Linked DNA regions of Homo sapiens: region 1 is linked to region 2. Evidence: fine-mapped expression QTL. A gene starts in region 2. The other region holds a variant in brackets. All regions are shown on one strand. Distances are between the middles of the regions.

Region 1 (5,366 bases), 55 kb before region 2:
CCCTCATGTGGAGCTGGACTTCATGCTGACCCCTGGGGTCACCAGGAGGCCCCTGCTGGGGCAGCACCGAGCCTCCCTCATTCTTTTGAGCCTTGAGATCCCACAGTTGCAGCCCAGGGCCTGCCAGCCTCAGGCCGGCCCAGCAGAACCTAGGGGAACCGCCCGGAGGGTCTTGGCCCCCAAGTAGGGAGAAGGCTCAACACTCACCTACCTGGATGGTGTTTCCCTTCCTCCAGGGCAGGGCAGGGCCTCCGATGCCTGCTGCCGCTGTAGGACCCTCTCCCAGTGCCAGTGGACACCCGGGGGCAGAAGGAGGAGGAGGAGGAGGAGCAGTGGGAGAGAACAGGAAGGGCAGGGTGGAAGCAGGAGAGCAAGATGGAGTGGGGGAGGGAGGAGACTGCCCTGCCCCTCCTTGCCGATGCCCCTGCCAAAGCCGCTACCTCCCAGGGAGAGTGAGTCAGGGCTGGGACACCCCGCCAGAGCCCTGGCAAGCTCCAGGGTGGGCAGTCCACCTGGACAGGTAGGGTTGGGGTGGTCCGGCTGGGCCTACGGGAGGCTGTGGGGAGGGGCTGGGGAAGGCCGAGGGGACAGAGGACCATCTGACCATGGCCAGCTTGGAGCCCCCCAGGACCCACGCATTGGCCTGGAGGAGGACTCTACAGGGACTCCTGCCCCGGGGCAAGGGGTCTCCCCAGGAGCTGGGACTTCCCTGCAGGCCCTCCTGTTAGGGAATCGGGCCCTCCACCAGGGCAGGGGGCACAGGCACAGGGCAGGCCAGTCACGGCAAGACTGGCCATCGGGGTCTCAGGCGGGTTCCCGGGACCAGCTGTGGGGCAACGAGGGCTCTGGAGGCAGGCTGCCTGATACAGTAGGATGTCTGGGGGGTCTCCAAGAGACTGAGAAAGGGGCAAGGGGAAGAGGTTCCCTCAGAGCGGGGAGGGAGGCTGAGGGCTGGAAGGCCCATACACCCGGGCCCCGTGACAGAGGCAGAAGGACAAGGTTTGGCTGGTTTTCCATGGCTCATGGCTGTGCCCAAGCAGTGGGCAGGCTGGAGGGGCGGGGGCCGGGCAGGCTTCCCGGCACATCCCTCATTTCCCCTCAAAGAACTGGCACAAAACTGAGACCTCTCCCGAGGAAGGGGCAGGCTCCGTGTCTGAGCCCACAGGAGGCAGCAAGGGGCCCATGAAGTCAGAGGGAGCCAGGGGAGCCTGGGGGGAAGGATAGGATCCCCTGGAGCTGGCCTGATGAGTATCCCCATTTTATGGACACAAAAGCTAAGGCCGAGAGAGAGGCTCTGATTTCTCCCAAGTCACTCAGCCTGACTTGGAACTCAGCTTTGGCGCCTCCAGGCCCCGCCTGAGCTCTCAGCTGTGCTCCTCAGCCACAGGGCTCCAGCCATGTCTCTGGGCCTGTGAGAGCCTGAATGCCCAAGACTGGGGGTGGCAGTTTGGGAGGTCCTGGCAGTATAGGCTCAGCTGTCCTCCCAAAGCCTGGCCCCTGCCTTCTCCCCACCACCTCACACCAAGCCCCTCCCTCCTGCCAGAACATGCACACACACACACGTACACACATACACACACAAACACACACACAGATGCACACATACACGCTCACATACACACACGTGCACACGCACACACCTATACAAAACACATATGTACACACGTGCACACACACATGCACACACCTATACAAAACACATATGTACACACATCCACATGCATCCACATACATGCACACATCCACACATATACGTGCACACACCTATACACACATGTACACACATATACATGCACACACCTAGACACTCACACATGCATACCCATGTATACACATTCACATACACATATGATACACATATACACACATATATACACAGATGCACACACACTCATGCACACATCTATACACATACATGCACATGTACATCCACATGCGCACATGCATGCATGTATACACACATGCACACATGCACACATACACACATGCACACACATGCACACACACGCACACATACACATTTATACACACGTACACACACACACACATGCATACATGCACACATACATACATACATACCTGCACATATACACCTGTATACACGCATACACATATGTACACACATACATGCACACATCTATACACACATGCATACACACATTCACATATACATATGTATACATATACACATACATACACATATATCCACACATAGATAAGGCAGGCGGGGACCCCAGCCCAGGAAGCAGGAATACCCCATAGTCAGATCCTGTGAGACCCACAGCAAGTCCCTCCAGTCCTCAACTCTCCACCACCACAACTGAGGCCTCTGGGCCTCAGTTTCCCTTCATTGGCCTCTCTGGGTGTGTCTTCAGGGACTTCAGGGAGGGTTTCAAGCCCCACCAAAGTGTGCCCTGAGCTCCCTGGATACCATCTCTTTAGAGCAAAGGACAGGGGCGGCAATGGCATAAGCCCCAGGTTTGGCGACCGCAGGTGTGAGTGAGGGAGGAGGCTGGGCTTCCTGGAGCCTCCGCCACCACCCCAATAGGGCCCTCCTTGTCTGCCCCTCTGAAAGCTAGCGCAGTCCTCTGCACTGGATTGCTCGAGGTCACAGCCAAACAAGATGCGTTGGCAGCCTCTGAGAACATGGAGGGTCCGTGCCAGGCATTCAGGCCAGGCCAAGGGCGGCGGGAGCAGGGCTTGAGGTCTGGCGGGCCCTGGGAGCTCGCCTGCAGATGGTGTGGCTCACAGCTGCCAAGTGGCAGACGCCGGATGCTGTCTCCGCAGCCTCAGCCCTGGGCGTCTGCCCCCCTGAGCAACCCGACCTGAACTCTGACACATGTGCCACCTTCCACGCAGCCCTGCGGGGTCCCCGGGACTGTGTCCTTCCTCCCCTCCCCTCTGGCCTCCAAAGCCTTTTGGGCCCAGTTTCAACCAGCAGCCTGGTGCTTGTGCCCCCGCTGACACCCGGCCTGCCCCCTGCCACTCTCCCAGGCCCCAGTCCACCAGTCCCTCCCCGCCGATGGCTCCAGCCTGTACTTGGGCATCAACCAGAGAGGGGATGTGTACCCTCCCTGGCCTTGCCAAAGCCCGGCGTGTGCGTTCATCTGTGGGAGTGGCTGCCTGAGGGGCTGGGGGCTGGAGTGGGGAGGGGTGGACCTTGTGCCACATTCCAAGCCCCTGCCGTTGCCGGAGCATGCCCTTCAGGCAGCCACGC[T/C]TGGGCGTCTGCTCCCCTTGCAGCCACGTGTGGAGGGGCTGGGAAACCCCGGCTCATCTGCTGCTCAAATCCTTTCCAGAGGTTTTCTGGCAGGGTGGCGACAAGGGTGGAGTTCTCCCTTGATGCGCCCAGCCACCTCCCACCTCTCTGTGCCAGCCCTTTGCAGCCTGTGGCGCCCATGTCAAGGTCCAGCCTGTCCCCACAGTCGGCGGAGTGCGGGACTCAGCCCTTCCCACTGTGCGCTCCTGGTCCTCTGCACACGGACTACTGCTGCCCCCTCCCACTCTCCGAAGAGATCCGGGGCCTCCTGCTAGAGTCTCCAAGGAAAAGGGAGGATGCTGTCACCTCTCAGAGGCAGAGCAGGGGACTCATGTGATTTCTTTACTTAGCATCCTGCCGTCCCCCGTTGACTATAAGAAGGAAGCAATGCTCTTAGAACTTGATGAAGGGGTAAACTGAGGCTCAGGAAGTTGGCCCCAAACTCTTGCCCAAGGCCACACGGTGAGGAAACAGCAGAGCTGGGGCTGCACACACTGTCTGTCTGTCCGTCTGTGTCCTTGCCCCCATGTCTGGACCCACCCTCTCCCAATGCACACAGTGCCACAGGCCCCAAAGCTGACACGCTTCACACTCTCGGGGCTGTGCAGGGGGCTCCCCTGGAAGCATGGCCCTTCTGAGGACCATCAGTAGCTCCCTATGGCCCACAGATCCAGAAGCCCCTCCTCAGCCCCAACACAGCCAGCAGGGCAGCCCCCGCCCAGCCTCTCACCTCTGCCTCTGTCTGCAGGGAGTCTCCTGGAAAAGCCATCGTCTCCCCAGGCGAGCACTTCAGGGCCCCAGGGAAGGTGTTCCCGGCCTGCCCCCCAGAGCCTGGGGCCCTGCCTCCCTCCCTCCCTGGTACAGGCCCACCAAGGCCAGGAGGGGAGGGGAAGGTTTCCTGCAGCCCCTCCCTGCCGCAACCCGCTCTCTGCCGGGGGCTCAGGCTGGGCTGGGATTAGCCTCCTTCAGCCAGCCAGGGTGGCCCACAGCCTGCTTAGCTTCAGGCTCCTGGGACTGCTGGGCTCCCATGGGTGTGTGTCTCTTTGCATGAGGGCAGCCTCCAAGAACCATGGGATGGCAGTCAAGGCCAAGCAGGGACTCAGACTTCCAGAGGATAGAAGTCACACTGGCTTCCCAGACTTCCCCTGCCTCCAGGGACAGGGCTGCCTTCTAATCTTCTGGCCACCCAGGAGTCTGCCCGCCATGCTCCCCTTGGCCCATCTGAACACCTCAGGGACCAAACAGGACTGGGATGGCCAGCAGAGGCAAGTTCAAGAGGCCCACAGAGTCCGTTGGGCCCCTGGTCCTCCAGCTTATCTCAGGCCAGTGTTTAAGTGGAGCTCAGGCTTAAGATGCAGTGGACCAGGAGAGTTCCATGCAAGAAGGCTGGCTAGAGCCCCAGGCCCCTAAGCCTCAGAGATGAGCCTCATGGGAATGGGCAGCACCTTCACCAGGCCTGCCAGGGAGCCGGGACCTGACCCTGCCCCTTGGGCTGGCTGGGATCAGAGCTGCGCAGGTGGGAAGCTGGGAGTGGGAGGGTTCTGCAGTCCTCGGAAGAGCCAAGGCTGGTGGCCCCTCCATAGCCACCCCAGAGGCTGCTCTGACCTAGAGCCATGACGGGGCAGGGGAAGAAGGCAAACAGCGAAACAGCGAAGGGGGCAGCTGGGATGGTTCCCAGGAGTCTAGAGTCCCAGAAGGGGCTTCTGGCTGTGGGATTCAAGTGGTGGAGGGGATCTTCTGGCCTGGAAGGGGACCTGGGGAAGGAGGAATGAAGCACAGGCCCCACCCCTCCAGAGGAGGTGGCCCCAGGCCTTCCCCAGGGAACCCTGGGAAGCTGGTTCTTTCTGGAAGGCTGCAGAAGGGCCTGGCCATGGGTCCTGGAGGCCACTTAGGCTAGGCGGGCCTCAGGCCAGGAGGACTGAGCCATGCGCCCTCCCCACAGCGCAGCCCCTCTGCACACACCCCACAGCTGGTCCCTCTAAGACTTGCGGAAAGGGCTCTGAGTGGCCGAGCTGTGGCCCCTGATCTCCCAACCCAGCATCTGAGCAGAAGAGGACAGGAGCTGGGGCACTGATCGCCCCAGGCCCGGTCGGCAGGGTGGGGGCCAGGG
Region 2 (5,319 bases):
AAGGACATGAACTCATCTTTTTTTATGGGCCGCGTAGTATTCCATGGTGTATATGTGCCATATTTTCTTAATCCAGTCTATCAGTGTTGGACATTTGGGTTGGTTCCAAGTCTTTGCTATTGTGAATAGTGCTGCAATAAACATACGTGTGCATGTGTCTGTATAGCAGCATGATTTATAGTCCTTTGGGTATATACCCAGTAATGGGATGGCTGGGTCAAATGGTATTTCTAGTTCTAGATCCCTGAGGAATCGCCACACTGACTTCCACAATGGTGGAACTAGTTTACACTCCCACCATCCTTTTGGTTTCTTTTCTTTCCTCTGCAGCTACCAAGATGAATGAACTAATGGAGAAATAGAAAGTCTTCAGTGATGGCCTACGCCAAAGCACAGGATGGGGCGGGCAGGAAGCCCTCTCCCAAGATCGAGTTGGCCGAGGATGGATGATTGTGGCAGCAGAAGCCGTTGCAGCCCCACGTTGTGCTCTAGGCAGGGACCTTTGGCCCCTTTGGGGAGGGAGAGACAGACGGGCGGTTTGACTTGGACACAAAGAAAGCCTTGGTTTCTAAGCAGTTGCCTCCAGCCTGCTTTCTGCTTCCTCAGCTCTATGTCTCTCTCCTTCCCCTTGTCCTGAGCTGCTCAGGTGGCCCAGGTCTGGGCAGGCTGGCGGCGGCCCTCCTGTCATCTTGGCGGGCCTGGGCTGCGTCCTCTTCCTGTGGCTCCACTCCTCCCTGCTGCTGCCAGCCACTTGAAAGCAGAGAACCCACTGTCGCCTCCCCCGGCTGGCCTTAGGGTCCTGTGCGAGACGCACCCCTCAGCCGCCCTCCTTGAGTGCCCCTGGATCCCCCGCGGGGTACCAGTTTCCTGCTCCTCCCTGGCTGGGCGCTCAGCTCTGGGCTGGGGAATTCAGCCTGACTGGTTGTCCAGGAAGATGCTGTCTGGGCTTCCCAGGGTGACCCAGTATCTCCCTGAGCAGTGTGCCTGTCACAGCTGCCTCCCTCCCTGTGAGTACCGGAACAGGCGTGACTGGTAGGGCCTCTGCCTCCTTGGGGCCATTGTACCTGCTGCTGCCCGCCCCACCCTGCTCCCTCCTGGCACCATCTCCTTTGCTTCCCCAAGGTCCCTGTGGGCACACAAGGCAAGGAGGCCAGGAGGAGCCAGGTGCCAGACCCCCCTCCATCCCAGTCGCCTGAGGCATCCCCCAGCCACCACTGTGAGAGGTGGGAGGCCGGGCAGGCCTGTGGTCACCATGGTGCAGGTGCACCACCTGATTTATAGGCCAAGGGACTCCTCTTGGTCACCTCTCTGTGCCCCCAGCATGGGGCTGGCCCTGCAGTGCACCCACCATCAAGGGCTGTTGTCTCTTGCTCCAGAATGAGGTCTTCAGGGCGCCACTGCTCGCAGGACCGGGAAGGACCTGGTGCCCTTTGCCTGGAGCGGGATAGACAGGGCAGGTCCCTGAGCCTGGGGTCCGAGGGGCTGGGCTTCACTCCTCCTGTAGTCCCGGCGCTCCTGGCCCACCCCCTAACGTTGCTTATCTGTGGTGGAGGAAGCATTAGCTCAGCTGCGGCCTGCACAGCTCCCGGGCCAGGCCCACCTCCCTTCCTTCCCCAGCAGCCACTGTTAGGTGCACGGTAGACATGATGAAGCGACGTCCTTAAAGCAGATAGCATCTCCCGAGGCTGCCCCATCCCTAGGTTTTGGGGGAGCACCCCTTCCCCTTTGGAGGCTGAGCACGGCATGTGTGGGCACCTTGGTCACACTCCAGAGCTCGCTTCATCCCCACGAGCGGCACCTGATCTCCAGTGACGGGGAGACTGAGGCCTGGCAAAGAGGACCTGTTGCCTTTGTGTAACTGGCCCCAGCATGGGGGAGGCATTGGCCCCAGCATGGGGGAGGCATTGACCCCAGGCCTGCCAGGCCTGGCAGCCACAGCCTGGCTAGGTGGAGGTTACTGCCTTCCGCACCACTCTGGCTTCCTCCCCGTGCCTGTGAAGAGCTCGGGGCCTGCTTCCTAATTTGTAAACACGGGGCGTGTGTCTCAGTGGCTGTGAGCTAGCGAGGGGGTGGCGAGCGAGCCGGCTGCGCAGGTCCTGAGGCCCCAGGCCTCATTGTTGGCCAACAGGCAGCTGGGGGCGGGCTGCGGCCGCTGATTAAAGGCCGCCTAGAGCAGCCTGTGTGGCGACAGGTGCCCAGAAGCCCAGGAAGCCGGTCAGTGCCCGCCCCAGGTAAGCTGGTGTGGTGGGGTTGGCAAGGACAGTCTCCCCGGGAGCCTGGGGGCAAGCAGGCAGAGGCCAGCTCGGGACCAGCACCTGTGTGCCAGGGACAAGGGTGGGGAGGTCGAGCCCAGCGGGAGCTGGGTGCACTGCATGGGCTCTTTCGGGTGGCTGCTTGCCTGCTTCCCGGCAGCTGGTTCCAGGGCTGGAGACCCAGTGTGCTATGCCCCAGGTTCCCAGCCAAGGCATTCCGGTGAAGGGGCTGGACCCCGCCAAGGTGCGGTCCCTGAGCTGCCTCTGCCTCTCCCAATCCCTGCTGGGGACTGTGGCTGGAGGCAGGCAGTAGAGCGCTCTGAGGCCTGCCTTTTCTGTTCAGTAGGTGACAGGAGTGGGGCTGACGCTCCCAGAGCCAAAGGTCACAGGTGCTGTGGTCGGGGGTGGCAGGAAGTGAGCCCCAGAAGGGTCAGAGCTTTGGCTAGGGGGAGGATGGTACACAGCAGGGCCCGGGCGAACCCCTCTCTCCAGTCCTCAGGGTTTGTGCCTCTCGCTCGGACAGTTTGAGGACTTGCTATCCCCGTGGGAACATCACCATGTCCGAGGCACCCCGGGCCGAGACCTTTGTCTTCCTGGACCTGGAAGCCACTGGGCTCCCCAGTGTGGAGCCCGAGATTGCCGAGCTGTCCCTCTTTGCTGTCCACCGCTCCTCCCTGGAGAACCCGGAGCACGACGAGTCTGGTGCCCTAGTATTGCCCCGGGTCCTGGACAAGCTCACGCTGTGCATGTGCCCGGAGCGCCCCTTCACTGCCAAGGCCAGCGAGATCACCGGCCTGAGCAGTGAGGGCCTGGCGCGATGCCGGAAGGCTGGCTTTGATGGCGCCGTGGTGCGGACGCTGCAGGCCTTCCTGAGCCGCCAGGCAGGGCCCATCTGCCTTGTGGCCCACAATGGCTTTGATTATGATTTCCCCCTGCTGTGTGCCGAGCTGCGGCGCCTGGGTGCCCGCCTGCCCCGGGACACTGTCTGCCTGGACACGCTGCCGGCCCTGCGGGGCCTGGACCGCGCCCACAGCCACGGCACCCGGGCCCGGGGCCGCCAGGGTTACAGCCTCGGCAGCCTCTTCCACCGCTACTTCCGGGCAGAGCCAAGCGCAGCCCACTCAGCCGAGGGCGACGTGCACACCCTGCTCCTGATCTTCCTGCACCGCGCCGCAGAGCTGCTCGCCTGGGCCGATGAGCAGGCCCGTGGGTGGGCCCACATCGAGCCCATGTACTTGCCGCCTGATGACCCCAGCCTGGAGGCCTGAGCACCAGGGCCACCTCCTGTGCCATGGACAGTGCCAGCCTCCACCGTTCAGCTGGCCTCTACCACCCCCGGCTCCTCCTATCTGGGCAGCCTCAGGTCCGTGCACCTGCCAGGCCTTCCCTGGCTGCCTGACCAGCCATACGGCCCTGGATTCCTCTCCAGGCCCCGCTTCCAGGGCCGTGCTCTCCCGGCTGGCCTGGGTGCCCAGCAGAGTTTGCTGTTTCCCAATAAACATTGCCAACTACTCACCCTCCGACTAGCTGGCCAGATACTAGGGGCTGGACTCCCTCGACCCCCTGCTGAGCAGGGCCAGGCGGTGAGCCATGCCAGGGGCCAGCACAAGACCTCCAGGGCCGCCCCCCTATGGCCTCTCCTCGCGGTGAGGACCGTGGGTGGCTGGGTAGGGAGACGTCAAGCTCTTGGGTTGGTCTGAGGGCTGATGGGTTGTGGCTGTGGGCTGATTGCCGCCCATCTGCATTGTCACCCCAGAGGCCCAAAGAAGCCATGAGTAGGGCCTTAAGCCCACAGAGCCGGCCGCCTGCCTGGGCACAAAGCTCAGCTGCAGCGCTTGCCCGCCGTGGGACCTGGAGTCTCTGTCCCTGCTCTGTGAAGTGGTAACAGGGTGAAATGTTAAGAAACGGGGTGCTGGGGAAAAGGGAGGTGCCCCCACATGTGGGCATGCACATGTACATGTACATGCTAAGGGCCCTGACGGTGCACGGAGCAGAGGTGGGGTGGCTGGTGCTGTGAGGGTGACCCTGGAAGGGAGCCTATCCTGCAGCCCGTGTCCCCGTAGGGCCAGGAGGCCGCTCGGTGGGAGGGCAGCTTCTGGCCACCGCACTGTGCTTTGGGTTCCCTGCTAACCTGCCTCAGGGGCCCCACCCTGAGGCACTTCCAGTCTTGGGAGGCCTCATGGGTGGGGAGAGACCTGTCACCAACGCTGGGTCAGGTAAGAAGGGATGGGGTGGCCACGCCTGAGAGTGACTCACATGAGCAAAGCCTGAGCCTCCAGCCAGCTGGACAATCTGGGAAGCCCTAAGTAGGTCAGAATGACTGGAGCCACTGCAGCGTGCACGGTGGTAGGATGGTGAGGCCAGAGCACAGGCAGTGACCACCTCAGACCTTCCTTGTGGCCCGGGCCAGGCCTGACCCTGATGGCAGCGGGGAGCCGCGGAGGGTCATGAGCAGGAGAGGGGAAAAGTCTGGTGTAGGCTTCTGCCATATGCTGCTTGGGCTGCGTGCCGAGCTGTTCTCGAGTTGCTGTGAAGAAATACTTGAGGCTGGGTCATTTACAAAGACAGCGGGTTTATTTTGGCTCAGCAGTGCTGGCATCTGTTAACTGGTGGGGCCTCAGGAAGCTTCCACTTATGGCAGAAGGCAAAGGGGGAGCAAGAGAGAGGCGGGGAGGTGAACTCACAGCGAGAATTCAACTCCTTGCGGAGGTGAGGACGGCACCAAGCCATTCATGAGGGATCCAACCCCATGACCCAAACGCCTCCCACCAAGGCCCCACCTCCAACATTGGGGGTTACATCTCAAACTGAGATTTGGAGGGGACGAACGTCCAAACCACATCAGGCTGCTGCATGGAGAATGGGCTGGAGAGGACAGCGACGGCAAGGCGGGCAGAAGCAGAGCATGGAGGGCTTTGGTGGAGGGAGGGAGAGCTATGGGCCTGGCCAAGGACAGTGGCAGCAGGGGAGGGGAGGGGGCACGGTCTGGGGAAGCCCCACAGGACCTAGTTTGGGAATGTGGTTAGTAACCAGAAGATCTTGTCACAGCCAAGCTTCCCGAGGAGAG

Direction of the effects. Positions count from the first base shown, and alleles are read on the strand shown. Sizes are in standard deviations (SD) of each study's normalised expression.
With allele T in place of C in region 1, the expression in unexposed skin of the gene that starts at base 2,184 in region 2 is lower (small effect, 0.18 SD a copy in GTEx).

The links. PIP is the estimated chance that this variant, and not a neighbour inherited with it, causes the effect. A credible set is the group of variants that fine-mapping cannot tell apart.
Region 1: its variant is the best candidate, but not a certain one, in a credible set for the expression of TREX2 in unexposed skin (GTEx, PIP 0.63).

The regions. Positions count from the first base shown.
Region 1 is chrX:153,497,412-153,502,777 of GRCh38, reverse strand. The region is part of intron 1 of BGN (biglycan); the gene reads right to left. Among named protein-coding and RNA genes, the nearest start is that of BGN, 5.1 kb to the right of the region's middle. The variant T/C (reference allele first, on the strand shown) is at 3,218.
Region 2 is chrX:153,442,921-153,448,239 of GRCh38, reverse strand. It overlaps TREX2 (three prime repair exonuclease 2), which reads left to right and starts at 2,184. Exons shown (of 2, transcript NM_080701.4): 1 at 2,184-2,231; 2 at 2,745-3,767. The coding sequence starts at 2,810. The coding sequence ends at 3,520. HAUS7 (HAUS augmin like complex subunit 7) reads left to right here. Exons shown (of 10, transcript NM_001385482.1): 10 at 331-572. The coding sequence ends at 362.